Linked DNA regions of Homo sapiens: region 1 is linked to region 2. Evidence: fine-mapped expression QTL. Tissue or cell type: liver. Region 2 holds a variant in brackets; the other region holds the start of a gene. All regions are shown on one strand. Distances are between the middles of the regions.

The links. PIP is the estimated chance that this variant, and not a neighbour inherited with it, causes the effect.
Region 1: TMED8 starts here. The variant in region 2 is fine-mapped to the expression of TMED8 in liver (GTEx, PIP 0.98).

The regions. Positions count from the first base shown.
Region 1 is chr14:77,373,040-77,381,183 of GRCh38, reverse strand. TMED8 (transmembrane p24 trafficking protein family member 8) reads left to right here and starts at 4,090. Exons shown (of 6, transcript NM_213601.3): 1 at 4,090-4,248. The coding sequence starts at 4,131. It overlaps SAMD15 (sterile alpha motif domain containing 15), which reads right to left and starts at 3,805. Exons shown (of 3, transcript NM_001010860.4): 1 at 2,077-3,805; 2 at 703-801. The coding sequence starts at 3,765. RefSeq lists silencers at 509-689, 4,083-4,512 and an enhancer at 3,823-4,032.
Region 2 is chr14:77,325,155-77,333,339 of GRCh38, reverse strand. It overlaps GSTZ1 (glutathione S-transferase zeta 1), which reads right to left. Exons shown (of 9, transcript NM_145870.3): 3 at 6,435-6,502; 4 at 5,788-5,868; 5 at 5,303-5,428; 6 at 4,139-4,217; 7 at 3,533-3,585; 8 at 2,981-3,030; 9 at 1,743-2,271. The coding sequence ends at 2,145. Among named protein-coding and RNA genes, the nearest start is that of GSTZ1, 8.2 kb to the right of the region's middle. RefSeq lists an enhancer at 2,539-3,738. The variant C/T (reference allele first, on the strand shown) is at 3,285.

The DNA.
Region 1 (8,144 bases), 48 kb before region 2:
GGTGTCAGAGACACAAAATGTCATGAGAACTTGGGATGGGGGCTACTGTGGGCTGGGAATGTTACAAAAGACTTCTTGGGGAGATGCAAATGAGGAACTGGTCTTGAAGGATGATTAAGATTCATATTAGTAATACAGAGGATGGGGGAACTGAGCGAAGACATAGAGAGAAGAACGCACCAGGCAGGTTTGCGAAGGTGTTAGACCTGGTGGTAGGCTGGAGCACAAAATTCATGTGGAGGAGTGGTAGGGGAGAGAACTTGTGGAGGGCCCTAAATTCTAAACTAGGGAGTGGAGACTATCTTGGTAAGCAGAAGGGATCCAAAGAAGGTTTTTGAATAGTACATAAGTAGGTGGAAAGTGAGAGCATAAAAGCAGGGCCCTTGAATCCAAAGGGTCCATTGAGACAGGCTAAAAGCGGGAGGCCACTGTGGTGTTCTAGGCATGAGGCCATAAGGTCTGAAAAGTGGGAATGAAGAAAGCCAGACGGTGTAAGTGCCACAGGAGCAATGGACAGTTCTTGGAATATTTATGGGGATCAAAGGAGAAAGAGGAGGCAACCACCGTGAGCCTGAGGAACTGGAATTATGATGACACCATTGACAGAAGTGGGAGGCCAGGCTGGAGGAAAAAAAGGTTGGTTTGAGACAGATGGTGGCACTGTTAACAGTGCTCTGTAGGGAAACTTTGGACACAACTCACCTTCATGTCCTCAAAGTTTGTTATCCCCATCTGAGGGAGGTTTGAGCAGTTGACGTGAATGAGTTTTCGGCCACTGATGAAGTTTGTGATAAAACACTCCTGTCAATACAACAAGGACATCACTTAAAAAATGTACTGCAAATAGAAGGAAGAAAGGGAGGGAAGGGGGAGGAAGGGAAGAAGTCGTGTTTGTTCTACCCTGAGAAAAAAATATTATTTTGTTTTTTCTTTTTTAGAGACAGGGTCTCACTCTGTCATCCAGGCGGGAGTGCAGTGCTGCAGTCATAGATCACTGCAGCCTCGAACTCCTGGACTCAAGCAGTCCTCCTGCCCCAGCCTCCTGAGTAGCTTAAATTTACTTTCTATCCCAATAACGGCACAATTTTTCCATGTAAGCTCTTTATTAAATTTTACACTGCTCTTTAACTGTTTTTTTGGGCATGGTACAACCAGTGCTTCTTCATGTCTCAATTACATTTGTAAGTATAGTAGGTACAAAAGGTTTCAGATCTTGTATTGTTTTGTGGTAGCCTTAAACCTAGTTGGCATCAGTGAAACAAGAGGTTTACACTGACTTTTTACTAAAACTAGTTTTGGTTAACTGGCTAACTTGAATTAATACACTTAAGTGCTCATGATACAGGTGACATATTTGGGGCAGACACTTTAAAAAGTAATAGCACAAGTTCAAAGCAAGGGAGCTGCCACTAAAATAACTTGACAAAGTACCAAAAAGCCTACCTTGAACAAAGTCTACTTAAAAATACAGTTTTCTATGAAAGGAGGTCTAAGGCCGGGCACGGTGGCTCACGCCTGTAATCCCAGCACTTTGGGAGGCTGAGGCTGGCGGATCACGAGGTCAGGAGATGGAGACCATCCTGGCTAACACAGTGAAACCCCGTCTCTACTAAAAATACAAAAAATTAGCCGCGCATGGTGGCGGGCGCCTGTAGTCCCAGTCCCAGCTACTCAGGAGGTTGAGGCAGGAGAATGGCGTGAACCTGGGGAAGGTGGAGCTTGCAGTGAGCCGAGATCGTGCCACTGCACTCCAACCTTGGCAAGAGCGAGATTGTGTCTCAAAAAAAAAAAAAGAAAGGAGGTCTATATACTCTTCTTGGTCTTTTATTCAAGGATTGCAGAGAAGTGTAATCACTGGAAGAGGAAAAACAAACCGATGTGACCCTCCCTTCCTCTCCCAAAATACAAATATACATCAGTGGCAAGGCCAAAATTAAAATCCAAGTTACCTCTACCACAGTCTAGGACTTTTTGATACTCCTTCCGGTAAAGAGGTAAGAGCTCAGGCCAAGTTAGAAGGAATAAGAAGTAGACGGATGACAGCATGTGATTTCAAAACATCTTATTTTTGTATACCTTGTATTGAGGGAAGCCTAGCTGGCTAATCCACTCTGCAACTTCCTCTGGATCCCAATTAAGATGCTCAAATTGTAACTCAGTCCCTTTTTCTGGCTGGGTTTCGTCATCTTCAGAGACCCGTTCCTTCAACTCTTGGGACAAATCTACAACTTCCTTTTCATGAACGAACTCACTTAATTCTGTCTGAGACTCTGAGGGATCTGAGTATGAGCATTCTTCACTGACATTAAGCAATTTTTGGAGTGGTTGCAAAAACTCATAATGTGTACCAATTGATTCTTCACTTTCTCTGAGAGATCCTAATGCGTAATATTCTTTTCTAAATTTGTCACTTAGTGACAACTTTCCTCTTTTAGGCTCACGGTGCTCTAGCTCATCGTTTCCTACAGAATACTTAGACTTTATTGGTTCTGGCCTGTCTTCCTTGGAAAATTCTACATGTGTCTCCCTTGGTTTGGTTTCATCTGGTAACTCTAGAATTTTCTCAGTTGGCTTTGTTTGTGTTTTCTCTTCAACTTGTGGGTTGATCTCCTGTGGTAGCACTGGACCAGTCTCCTCTGGTGGCTGTGGATTTTTTTTCTCATTTGACTTTCTTATCTCTTCTGGACTTTCTGGTTTCATCATTTCTGATTGTTCTAGAATTGTTTCCTCATTTGTTTTTCTTGATTCTTCCTCAGGAAACTCTAATTTGATCTCTTCTAGTGGCTCAGGAACGTTCTCATCAGTAGACTTTCTTGGCTTGTGGTCTGGAAAGTCTGGTTTAGTCCGCTCAGGTAGTTCTGTCCCTTTCTCCTCAGTTGCCTTTCTTTGCATCTCCTCTGGAACCTCTGGTTGAGTCTCTTCTGGAGGCTCTAGACCTGCCTCCTCACTAGACTTTCTTGGTTCCTTCTCCAGAAATTCCAGTCTAGCCTGCTCGGGTGGCTCTGTCCTTTTCTTCTCAGTTGACTCTCTTTGTGTCTCCTCTGGAGTCTCTGGTTTGGTCATCTTTGGTGGCTGAAGATCTGTCTCTTCAAGTGATTCTCCTAGTTTCTCACTTGGAAAATCTTGTTTGGTCTGCTCTGGAGGCTCTAGACCTGTCTCTTCATGTTGCACTCTAAGTGATTCCTCTGGAACCCCCGGTTCAGTCTCCTCCTCTAGTAATTCTAAATTTCTCTCTCTGACTGTGGCCCCCGAAACCTCAGACATGGTTTCCGTTGGTGGCACTGGATCTGGATCTGTTTCCATAGCTGACTCTAGGAACACATCCTCTGTAACATTTGGTTTAGCCTCCTCTGGTGGCTCTAGGTCTGACTCTTTATGCGTTTCATCCATAGGGGCCTCCAAATCTTTGAAAAACTCTCCCATCTCTCTGGATGTTTCCGACTTTACCTCTTGGTGTATCCCTGGTTCAGTTTCGCTTGGTACGTCTCTCTTGGACTCCTTGGCAATTCCTTCCTGGGACGTCCCGCCAGGTTTCAGCTGCACGTTCTTAGCACTGTCTGGCTCCCCCTCTTTGAAGTCCTCTTCCTCGGTCTCTGGCTGTGGCTCTTGGTAAATCTCTGCTGGTAGCTTCGAGTCTGCCTTTGCCATGGTGTCTGGTTCGGCATTTTCATACAATTTATGAAGTCCAGGCAGTTCAGGCCTCTCAGGCTCCAGCTCTCCATCTTCATCTGGGCCGGAATCATAATCCTCCGGGACTTCAGCCATTTGCAGCTTAGCAGACGCGCCGCGGCTTCCTAGCAACCCCAACTTCCGATAGCGTCTCTATGGATACCACGATTTCCGGCAGTGTCTTCCTGACTCTTCCCCAGGTTTTGTTTGTTCTTTCAAGCCCTGACTTTAAAAATCGTCTGTCACAAGCACGCAGTAACCCTCCCTGCGGCCTCATCGCCAGCCTCAGCGGGCCAGAGCTCCTGTGGCCGCCCCTGGGTCAGCTAGCTTTTCAAGCGGCCGCCGCGCCGCTTCTTCCGGCCTGCAGGCTGCGCTCGGCTGTGCTCGGCGCTCGCTCGGCCTTCGGCTGTTTCCGGAGCCACTCGCGGCTGGCAGCGGAGAGCTCCGTGCGCGGGCTGCAGATGTCTGACCTGCAGGCGGCTGAGGGGCCGGGCTCCTGGAGCCCCACAGCCCGCCCAGGGTCGGCTGGCGGCGTCGGGGACTGCCAGGGAGTGGAGGGGAGCCAGGCGGCCGCCTCAGGTACGCAAGGCCGGGGCGCTGGCGGGTGGGTGCCGCCCGGCCTCAGGGCCCCGCACCACGGCGCGAGCCTCCGCCGCGCTCTGTCCTGGGCTTCCCCGCGGAGCGGACCCACCTCGGCAGCCCCTTCGCGCGCGGGGCCCCTTCCCCGCCGCTGCCACCACCCGGGCCCTGGGCTCGAGGTTATTTTCTACTCACTCCTGTTTCGAAATGCCTTGATTCCTGCCCCGCTTCCTTTCTGAGATCTGCCCAAATGGTAGTGACAGGGTGGCTCTGCCCCTGGCGCCTCTTCAGCTTCAGTTTCAGCTTCAGCCGGGGTTCGGGTCCCACCTCCGTCTGCTAATCACATCTAGACTGCCGACCCGAACCCTACTGGCCTCGCCGCCCCCTGCTTCTGGCTCCCCACCCTATCCCCATCTCAGTCCCCTGCCCCAGCCTTACCACGCGCCTCTCGGCCCCCACCCGGGTTGGCAGCCTTGCCTTCCTCTGCCAGAAGCCCACTGCGCCCTAGCCTTCCTGCACATAGGCCCCCTGGCCTTGCTGCCATCCTCTCCATCGCTTAGAGTGGGAAAAATGAAAAGCAGAGTTGAAATAGGTAGTGTCTGGGGTCTTTTGCTTGAACACAGTAGCCAAAGCAAGAGCAGGAATTAAAAATTTGGCCTACCTCCCTCATTCTCAAGACCCTCATCCTCTTCTTGTCCAGGACGACGTCTCCATTTCTACTAACGCGAGTTCCTCCGTGTGTATTATTTCAGTGTCCAAAGACAAAAGAGTCCATCCATCACACTTTCTTCTTTCAGCCTCCTGAACACCACACACGATGCAACTGAAAGGATGCTCTTTTGAAATACGAAAGGGTAGAGGGGAGAGAACTTGTCTTATTTAAGTAGCAAATATAAATTAATTTTCTAGGTCTGAAATTAAAATAGACACCATAAAGTATAATGGTTGAGGCACTACTGTGGAGCCAGGGTGCCTGGATTGGAGTCTGAAACGTCAGTTTCCTCATCTGTAAAATGTGATTACTAAAAATATCTGCCTCATAGGATTATTGTGAGGATTACTTGAGCTGCTTTGTCTAAGGCATTTGGGGTATAGTCCATGGTACACACTATACTCGTCTCAACCATTGTGACAGTAAGGTCTCTTTTTGTTCAGTTGAACTTCCTGTGCCGCCAGAGGTGTTCTTGGATGTATGGCTTCCAACATGGTGCCTTTTTCTGTCTTCTACTCTGATCCCAAGTATCTTCCCTCTCATAATGCTGCCTTATTCAAACACACACACAACTCACCCAGCTCTTTCCCATGATTTTATATTCTTTTACTTTAAAACACCTGACAAATTTTGCCTTTTTTTCTTACGAACTCTGCTTTGTATTAAATTAAAAATCGTTGGCATATATTTAACATAGCAGTAGAAATTCTAAGCATAATGTCTAAAAGACTAAGCAAGTAAACACAGAAAGGTAAGTCTTATAACACTTGTCCCTTGCATGCGCCAGTATTTACAAATTAAGCATGTTTTTACTTCCCCTTTAGGTTCTCATGTGTTTATGGCAAACGTACCCACGCGTTTTAGATAGATGAGTGTGTTTTTTTTTCCCCCTGACATCTAATTCATTCCTGCATTCACTTCCTCCCAGGACATTGGTAGAGATGCTTACTTTCCTTCCTCTTACCCTCAGAATGCAGGGTGATAATTTTTTTTTTTAATGTCATGTAGGGGTTTATTATAGTAGCCCAGAGCAAGCTCTTCCTCTTGAGGTAGGATTTGTTGCTAATAAAATAATAGTAATGATAACCTACAGATATTGAATGCTTATTCTGTGCCAGAGGTGGAAAAAAATTTATATTTTCTGATTTAGTCATGTCAACAATCATTTTCTTCCCATTTTACAGAGGAACAAACTACAGCTGAGAAAGGTTAACTTACCTGTTCAAGTTAGCGCAAGTTTTTACTGTCTGGATGAAATTGTCATCTTGTTATGATGAAGTCTATAATTGTTTGTTTTTATTGGCCATGAATCAAGTATTGGTACTCGCAGACAGGTTATGGTCTCTGTCCTCAAGGTGTTTTCAGTTTGATGAGATGAGAGATCCATTTCAGGGAGAAACAATTAACAATTCAAAACATTATATAATTGGGCGTCTTTTATTACAATTCTTTATCTACTAAGAAACCTGCTTGGAGTTAGGAACGGAATCTCTCTTGCTTGTTTATTTATCTAGAGCCCTTGATGTTGTGTTTTAGAGGTTTCGCAAATATTTGCTGAGTTTGATGGTGAGAGAAAGTCTGAATGCAGAGATCTGGATGAGCATCTAATGAATGTGAAGAATTAGGGTTGAGATAACCAAGAATGTTCCTTGGGTTAGAGCAATGGTTTTCAACCAGGTACGATTTTGTATCCCCAGGGCATGGCAATGTTTGGAAACATTTTTGCTCGTCACAACTGGTGGCAGCTATTGCTGACATCTAGTGAGGATAGGCTAGGGATGTTTGCTAAACATCCTGCAAGGCACAGGGCAATCCCCATAACAAGGAGGTATCTGGCTCCAGATGTCAGTGGTGCTGCTTTTGGGAACGCTGTGTTAGAGTTAAGCTGGGCTTCCAAAGCAGTGTGGAAATACTATATTTGGCCTGGACCAGAGGCTTGGGCGTAAACCCCAAAAAACTGCTTTAAACTTGGAATTCGTTTGATTGGATCCTTCTGCCATCTTCCTCTAGAAAATGATACAATGAGTAAGCAATAGAGCTCTAAGAAAGAATGAAATTTAATGAGATTTCTCTCACCCTTTCAGAGAGAAAACAGCAGTAAGAAATGGAATTGGATATTCAGGTGTTCTGTTAGTCCATTTGGAATACCTGAGACTGAGTAATTTATAAGAAAAGAGTTTTAATTGGCTCATGGTATTGCAGGGTGTACAGGAAGTGTGGTGTTGGTATCTGTTTCTGGTGAGGGCCTCAAGAAGCTTAGAATCATACTGAAAGGGGGAGCAGGTATGTCACATGGCGAGAGTTGGGAGTGAGAGAGAGAGAGACGGGAGGAGGTCCCAGACTCTTTTAAACAACCATATCTCAGGTGAACTAACTGAGTGAGAACTCACTTATCATCAAGAGGATGATGCCAAATCATTCATGAGGGATTCATCTCCACGATCCAGTCACCTCCCACCAGACCTCACCTCTAACATTGGAAATCACATTTCAGCGTGAGATTTGGAGGGAACAAACATCCAAGCCATATCAGGTATTGTTGAGTTAAGGGTTTTGGTTTTTTGGTGTATCTTATTCCTTCAAAGCAGGAATGTGTCATTATCCAGAATAACCATAACTTGTTTTTTAAAAGTGTTCTCTGCAGAGAATACCTATTGAGTGTCTTCATGTTTGTTAGCTGAGGTTTTGGTGAAAAGGAAGGAAAGGATTTATGTTCTTATGAACTAAGCTCTCCAGTGGTCATGGTGTTCTTATTGTTTTATGCATTGTAATTGTTTTTAATAGTCTTTTATTTGAGGCACCTGGGTTCTTCAGTTCCCCAGAGGAGAGATAAATCATTCTTTAATTATGAAACTATCTGAGGCATACTTGTTGCATCACTTAAAGGCAGGTTTTTTTGTTTTTGTTTTTGTTTTTTTTTTAAGTTTAAAGGAAAATAAAACTCTATTGTGATCCTGAAGTCAGCAGTAGAACTTAGTTTGGTGTGTATGTCCCCCAGAGCTATCAATACATTTAGATGTTGAGGATGGAAACAGGTCAGGTAAACTTGTTCATGGTTCTAAGGTAGAAGTTAGAATATTACAATAAGTCTTTTTGCAGTGATGAAAATATTTCATATCTGTCCCAGCTACTCAGGAGGCTGAGGCAGGAGAATCACTTGAACCCAGGAGGCAGAGGTTGCAGT
Region 2 (8,185 bases):
GTGAGACTCTGTCTCCAAAAAAAAAAAAAAAAACAAAAACAAAACACTAAAAGTTAGGAGGAGCCGTATCTTGGCCAGGCGTGGTGGCTCACGCCTGTAATCCCAGCACTTTGGGAGGCCGAAGTGGGCAGATCACCTGAGGTCAGGAGTTCGAGACCAGCTTAACCAACGCGCCTGTAATCCCAGTACTCGGGAGGCTGAGGCAGGAGAATCACTTGAACCCAGGAGGTGGAAAGTTGCAATGAACCTGAGCTCTTACCACTGCACTCCAGCCTGGGCATGACAGAGCAAGACTCCATCACAAAAAAAAAATAAATAAATAAAAATAAAAAAAAATAGTATGAGTATGTGTATCACCTGTTTATCCAGTAAGTTTGCCACTTTCCTTAATGGATATGTAAAATTTCTGAGGAACACAGCCTATAATTTTTGCTTTGTTCTCAGGTATTTCCTGATAGCACCTCCCTACTGCTTTCCTCCTCCTGAAGTATTTCTGGGGACTTGTTACTTCCATAGAGTTGGAATTACCAGTATCAGGCCCCTCCATCATTGTTCTTCCTTCACTGTGGCCACTCCCACTCTGGGAAGACCACGTACATATCTAGTCTCCCTGTGCCTCTAGCATATCAGGATCAGGTGTCTGCTGAGTGTGATATGGAAAGGAAGGACTTGACTTACCACTCATCCGTTTGAGAGAAGCCCCTACTGGAAAATGTCCTGTAAAAAGGTGATGGTCTTTGCTACGATTTAAATGTTTATGTCCCCTCTAAAATTCATGTTGAAACTTAATCTCCAATACAACAGTATTCAGAGGTGGGGCCTTCAAGAGGTAAAGCTCCTAAAAAGTCATCTCATTTCATCCCCAGAAGCTACCCCAATCTCTGTACGGCATCTCTGCCCAGAGGTGGTCCTGGTTCTGCCTGAACACTGCCAAGCATGGGAACTTGCTCCCTCCAGGGCAGCCTGTGGTACACTGCTACCTGCTTGGTCTCCTAAGCTGGCCTGGTCAGTAGCTGCTCACACTGCCCACGGGGGAGCCTGCCTCCCATTCCCAGCACCATCTGTGACTGGATTTACCCCGAGTGCCTAATCCTGGGACTGGTCTGGAGAATGCTGGCCCTGAAGACGAGGGACTGGTTGAGAGGGCCAAATGGCCTCTCAGTGCTGGAGTGGAATATGTTTTTTTTTTTTAGATGGAGTCTCACTCTATCTCCCAAGCTGGAGTGCACTGGTGCAATCTCGGCTCACTGCAACCTCCACCTCCCAGGTTCAAGCCATTCTCCCACCTCAGCTGGGACTACAGGCACCTGCCACTACACCCGGCTAATTTTTGTATTTTTAGTAGAGTCGGGGTTTCACCATGTTGGCCAGGCTGGTCTTGAACTCCTGACCTCAAGTGATCCACCTGCCTCGGCCTCCCAAAGTGCAGGGATTATAGGCATGAGCCACTGCGCCCAGCCTGGAGTGGAACATTTAACAACGGTACCATTCCTAGCCCTGAGAACTCAGCCAGTCACTAGATGCTTTCCTGCTTCTATCTGTTATCTCCCTGGATCTTGTCTGATTCTTTCAGGCAGGCTTTTGGGTATATTTCTCATCATTGCCCTTAGGTCCCATGGGCCAGGCCTGCCACAGGGTAGGCAAGTGGCTGACTGACTTCCTCTACTGGTCCAGGCACAGGGGATTCCAGCTAGGGACAGTGTTCATCTTCTGGAACCTAGCTCAGTCTTAGACAAACAAGGTAGAGGCCTGGGCTTCAGTTTAATTCACGCCAAATTTCAGCGCGGGCATTCTTTGGAGTCACACACAACAAAAGCGGATGAGAAAAGGCACACAGCCTTCCCCGTGGTGTTACGGTGAGCACGCCAGGCATTTTAATCCGCATTCTCATCTCAGCCTCACGACTGCCCCGTCACATAGATAACAGTATTCCTGCCCACCCTGCTCCCCGCATCTCCCTACTCCACCCCACATGCGTGTGACAGATGAGGGGACTGAGGTGGAACAAGTTTCAGCAGGAAGGCAGATCCAGGGCTAGAGTTCGAGTCTCCCATCTCCTCAATTAAGACTCTCGTTTCCAGGCCTCTTCAGCCCACCCAGCTTCTGCTCCTGTGGCCCTGTGCCAACGGGGCAGGATTTGGGAGCTAGGCCCTCAGCTCAGTGGGTGTATCTGGCTGCCGGCAGGGGTGAGACACCTGGAAGGCCTCCAAGACCAGCAGCCTCTTGTTGATGGAGCTGATGGTAGGGTAGGGGGTGAGATCCACCTTGAATCTGTAGTAGAGAAACACCTGCTAAGCTAAGGTTTTCAGGGACACAGGGAGACTGCCCTGATGCAGCAGGGGGAGCAGAGAGGCAGGGCTGGATGAGGTCGAGGGAGCTGTCCAGGGAAGGACGATGGGGCAGCCCTTATTCACAGGGGATGGGTAGGTCTTGTGCAGTATCATTTGGCATCTGTTACCTACTGTTCCTATTTCTTTGTGAACCTGCTATGTGTAAGGCCCAGTGCTAGGCATTTATATATACAGACTCTCTTCCCCCATGTTGTAAGCTTCTTGGGGGCAGGGAATGTGCCATACGTTTCCATATCCCTAACGCCTAGCATGATGCCTTCCAGAGAGGTGCTCATTTGTGCCCTACCAAAGGGTTCACGGAAGGATGCAGAGGTAGAGCTCACTACTGCTCACAGACACACCACATTTGAGGACATCAGGCAGGTGCTCTTGGGGGTCCACCAGGTGAGCCACCTCCTCTTAGGAGCTGGGGCTATCTATACAGGTTCATCTGGGCTGTGGTGGGCGTAGTAGGAGCACTGCCCCAATTTCTTCTGCCCTCTTCCAGGCAGAAGTGGCTATGTGGCCTGGCATGGTGGGCTCCTTGGCTGGTTGGCGAAGCGTCTGCATGAGATGCTATCTCGCCAGCTGAGTGGGGCCTGACTGTGGGCAGAGCCACGAGAAGGGAGGGTGGCGGGGCTCTCTCTTACCTTTCAGCATTTGCCACCTGAGGCACCAAGCACAGATCAGCCATGGTCACCTGAAAGAGGTCCCGGTGGGTTCCCATCAGGGTGCATACCCCAGAGTCAGTGGCTGGACTGGGTGTGTCCACTGCGACTCTACTGGGGGTACCAACAATCTGCTTCGGCTCTTTCACCCATCCCACCTCCAATTCTTGTCTGCCCTAGGCCTGCATGAGTCTGTCCCCCGGAGCTGAAGTGCCCTCCCAGGCCATGCTCCAGTTGCCCTGACAACCAACTCTGTGGGTTGAGAGGGCCAGAGAAGATGGATTGC[C/T]TTGACTGCGCAGACATCATCTAGCACAATCCCTCAACTGATGCTGGCCCGCCTCATCCTCTCACAGCCAGTCTTCTACCTTGAGTAACTCCCTCTTAAGACGGTTTAGTGGGAGTGAGCTGAGGAGTGCCCCATGGCACAGAGATCCCCCTGCAGACGCCTTCTCAGGAAGCTCTGAGCTTGAGGGAGGTCAGCATGAGGGAGGCAGCCACTGTGGCTGGGCCTGGGGAGGTCTGGGGACAGCTTACCTCGTCTCCTACACAGTATATGCCCGCTGTGCTCTGTAGGATCTGCTCCAGGGCTGTGGGGAGGCCACATAAACATCTTATTCTGGGCGCAGGGAGGGGACACAAAGCTTTCTGGGCCTTGGCCTCCATAGTTATGAAATGGGCGCCCAACTGAGTGACAGACTGGGCATGGCTGCTGGTGAGAATGTGGCAGCCAGGTCTCGAGAGAGCTGTTAGGGATGAGCTGCTGTTTCCTGAGGCTCCGCACAGACAATCACCATTTCCCCACTCGAGTGGACAAGCCCTGCCACTGGCCACGGTGACAGCTCTCACTCTGATGGCTGGCGCTGTGCTGGCCTTGGTTTCCCAGCTGGAGTAGGCAGTGAAGCTGAAGTTGGGCCATCCAGCTATGAAGGGCTGTGGGCTCAGGGACCGAGGTTCCCAGAAGTGCTGGAGCTAAGGTCTGGATGCCCACCCAGCCCATTGCCTCCCCAGTCCTGCCCTCATCCATGCAACTGTCAGGCCCAAAGCAGCCTGGGAGGCTGGTTCAGATACCCAGGCCCCTGTGTGCGAGGGCCATACCTCTAAGAGGCCACTGTGGGGCAGCTCACAGAGGTGAGGACTCACCGTTAAAGCCACAAGTGATGGCGTTCTGGGCCCAGGTCAGCTGCATCTCCTCTCCCACTTGCTTCAGGACAGACAGGTTCTGTGCAGCCCAAAGAAAATCTGTGATTGCGCTGACAGCTGGGTGGGGGCTACCCCTTCGCCAAACCCCCTCAGGGAAGTTCACTTCCCATCTGCCCCTGGCTGGATGTCTATCCCTTCTCCCCCAGGCTCCATGAGCCCCTTCCTTCAACCAAGGGCCCTGAGGTTGGAGGGAGGTAGCCATCCCAGCAGCCACCTTTGCAGGCTGCCCCAGTGGCCTCAAAAAGCCACGTGATTCTGTCAGAGATGTGCAAGAATCCCTATTCATGTGACACAGGACGCGGCCATGGCTGTGGCAGGTGTGCCCACAACTCGAGGCCTGTCTCCCTCACTTCTCCCTTGCATGGTCCCTTGTGAGGAGAGGGAGTGTGAAAGAGGGTGGGGCTGGGATGAGGGAGGTCCACAAGACCGGCTTCCAGAGATTTCCAGCCTGGCTCCATCTTGGCACCCCTGGAGCCATTTTCCCTCTGTTTCCTCATTATAAAATGGAGATGTCTGTCTGCTCCAACATCCTTTGTTAAAGCGACATGCGGGTAGAGGGCATAGGCATGCAGGGATTCTGACTTAGTCCCCACTTTGTTATGACCTACCTGTGGGACTCCTAAGTCACTCCACCTTTCTGGGGCTATTTCCTCATTCAGAGTAGAAGCTGGCACAGATGAACTGTTTTTAATACTTAGTTGTCTGTTTTAACAGTGACACTTAAAAAATAAAATCCTACAAGTATCCCAGTATATGACTGAGATAGCACAGATGAAACGGAAGCTGCTCTGGTTAAAGGCAGGAGGCCTGGACTGGGGCCTGCTCAGTCTCTCCCCTGCCATTCTGGCCCTTTCCCCACCCCAAGCACCTGTACATGCGTCCTTGGAAACTAGAGCTTCTCGGAACGCAGCGGGGGACCCGCTGGGGGGCTGAATTCTGAGATTGCGATCTTCACCCCCTTCTTTCACATGGTCCAGGTCAGAGGCCCTGAGAATCCCCCTCCCTCCCTTGACACCCCCGCCCCCACACTGGGCAGCTCACAGCCAATGTGTGAGTGTAAGAGTGTGTCAGGTGTGCAAGGGTGCAAGTGTACAAGTGCCACACCTGCAGGGGCTGGATGCCACCAGCGATGAGGTCAGAAATCATACGCACGCTGGCCCTCTTCTTTGGGTCCTGAGGCAGAAGTCGCGGAGTGGGACGCATCTCCTCTAGATACTCAATGATGGCCAGCTGTCCAGAGGGGAGCAGTGAGGCAGGGAGAGGGCCCAGGACCCCTGGACCAGAGGGGACAGGGCCAGCAAACTCCTCCTTCTCCTCTTCCAGCACCATCACTACACCTCTTCCCCCCTGCTTCTGCTCAGCTCAAGCCCTATAAGCCTTTTTGGACCTTATCATGCAGAACTTGGTTCTCCATGTGCTTGAATCTTCCCTTATTTTCCTAAATAACCTCGCACCCTCCCCACGAGTCTTGTATTGAGCCTCTCCTATGTGCTAGGCACCTTGACTGTACACAGGCGAGGAAGAGATGTCAGGCGCTCTCATTCAGGGCACTGCTCTCATGAGGGCCCTCCCCCAGGCCCTGCACTCACTGACTGGTGAATGGTGATTCCATCAATCTTCAGGGTTGGCACCTGCTTCATAGGATTCAGTGCCTGGAAGTCCTTAGAAAACTGTGGAGACAAGGCCCTGGTGGGCTGGGTGGCCTGGCCTGAGTTGGCCAGAGGAAAGCCAAGCAAGCAGGAGAACCCCAGGCCTGCCACCCACCCCCATCTCCCTTCCCTGGGAAGGCCCTAAATCCTAGGCCCAGGGTAATCCCTGGGGGATCCATGCAGTCTCCCAAAGCCCAGCTGCTGCTGAGCCATAGGCTTCATCCTAACAGCCTGGCTATGGGCTTTCCCTGCATCTCACACCGTGGCCACCAAGGCAGCTCCTACCCTAGTCAGCCATCCAGAGGGCCCAGTATGGGGTGGGGACCCACTAGCCACCCACCCTCCCAGGGTCAGGCACTGGAGAGCCCAGGCTAGGGTACACAGTCTGGACCTGGGCCCTTCCCAGGCCTCCTGCTACTGCACACCTTGCCACCTTGTCCCACAAGGGAGAGCCAGCAGCCTCCTGCAGTGATAGTCCACAAGACACAGGTTCACTTCTCTGGGGCAGAGCCTCCCCTTTTTCCCCTGCCTGGTGCCTGTTCAAGGCCTCCAATTCCCACATTGTGGTCTGGGCACAGCCTTCTTACCTGTTGGCCCCCATCCTTTATGAGATTGATGGGCACCGTCTCGTAGTCGATGCCTTTCAAGGCCAGAGCTAGGAGAGACCGCACATAGCGGAGTCAAAGAACAGCCTCTCGCCGTACTCTTAAAGGAAAGAGCCCTTCTAAGGTGACATTAAGGCCAAAGAGGGGGAGGCTTCTCTAACACTTCTGGGTGGTCAAGGCTCACCGTGGCACTATCCCCTTCTCTCAGCTTTCCTTGTCACCACGTGCTCCCTACCCCAGATGCACGATGCTCTGCCTCACTCACCCCTGAACTCTTAGAGACCTCAAGATCTGGACCCCCCCAATGGGGCCCTCATGCCCCCTGGATGGTGATAAAGGTGTATGCCCTGGCACTCTGTGGGCTCCTGGAGTTCAGCAAGGCTGTGTTGTGTTTAACTCTGCCCCCCCAGGGCCTTAAACAGTGGTGACCAGTGTCTTGGTTGAAGACATGCAATTACTCCCTCAAGAAGGCAACTAAGGGCCAAGGGAAGGAGCTCAGGTGGCCACACACAGCACACACAGACAGATGGCACTCTTGTTCTGTTGGAGAAGAATCTCTTCCAATCTATTCTCTCTGTTCTCAGGGCTGTTTACTAGAGATTCTAGACAGGCATCAGGCTCTTTGGTGGCCTCAGAGCATTTGCCGTGACTCCAGTCACCAGATTTCCTCTCCATCCCTTTTGATAATTTCCCCTGGCAAGCTGAGGGTAAAAAAAACTTGGGTGGGTCAACACTAGTGGAGAAGACTGCGTGCGTGTGCATGCATGTGTGTATTACACACACTTGGGCATTCAAGTATGGTGATGGCCAATCTCAGGGAAGGGCAAAGGAATGAGGGGAGGAGGACCAGACATGTCATGGTGTGGAGAGCCTGGGCAATACCAGGCTCCTCCTAGTGTTGGTCAGCTCCAGTCTGGGGAGTGACAGTGTTTGGGGCTGGAGGAGACACCTGGAGGAGGGAAGGCCAAAGCACACAGGCCGTACAGACAGCACCTATATTGCTCCGGCTTCTGGCTCAGCCAGGGCAGAGGTACTGGCGCCCAGGGATGGGTTCATCTTCTTGGAGGAAAGTTTCTCCTGGCACCCAGTGCTCTTGCTTACTGATCCCAGCAAATACCAAGTGACTATGGGATGGAGGAGGGGTCACGGAGGATGGCTTTGCCTCCACACTCTGGAGGCAAGCTTCTTGGGTTCAAATTTCATCACAGTCATTTGCTAACTGTGTGGCCCTGGGCAAGTAACTTAATGGGCCTCTGGAGCCAGACTACCTGGTTCAAATTCCAGTTCTGCCTCTTAGTAACTGAAAGATCTTGGGCAAGTTACTGAATGTTGCCTGTTTTTTGTGCCTCAGCTTCCTCCTCTATACAATGGGGACAGTAATAATAGTACCTCCCTCCTAGGGTTGCTGAGGTTTAAATGGAATCAGGCACACAAAAGCACTCAGCACAGAGCTTTTCCTCAGTACAGGCTGCTTTGGTTATGACCTTTGCCAAAGGCTGTGTTAAGCCAAGGGAGGGAAGGGTCAAACAAGGACTAGCCACAGGGCCCTTGTTTCTGCTTTTCTGAAGCCTCCGAGGCTGATGCTGGCCCGTTCTGTTTGCTTTGCCAGTTCAAATAAAATAAGAACTGAGAAGGGCCAGCTGTTCCCCTGCCAGTTACCAGGGGCATGTGGATTTTGTGACCCTGCTTTAAACATGGTTGCCAAGGGGCTTTGGAGAGCAGTGTTGGGAGAA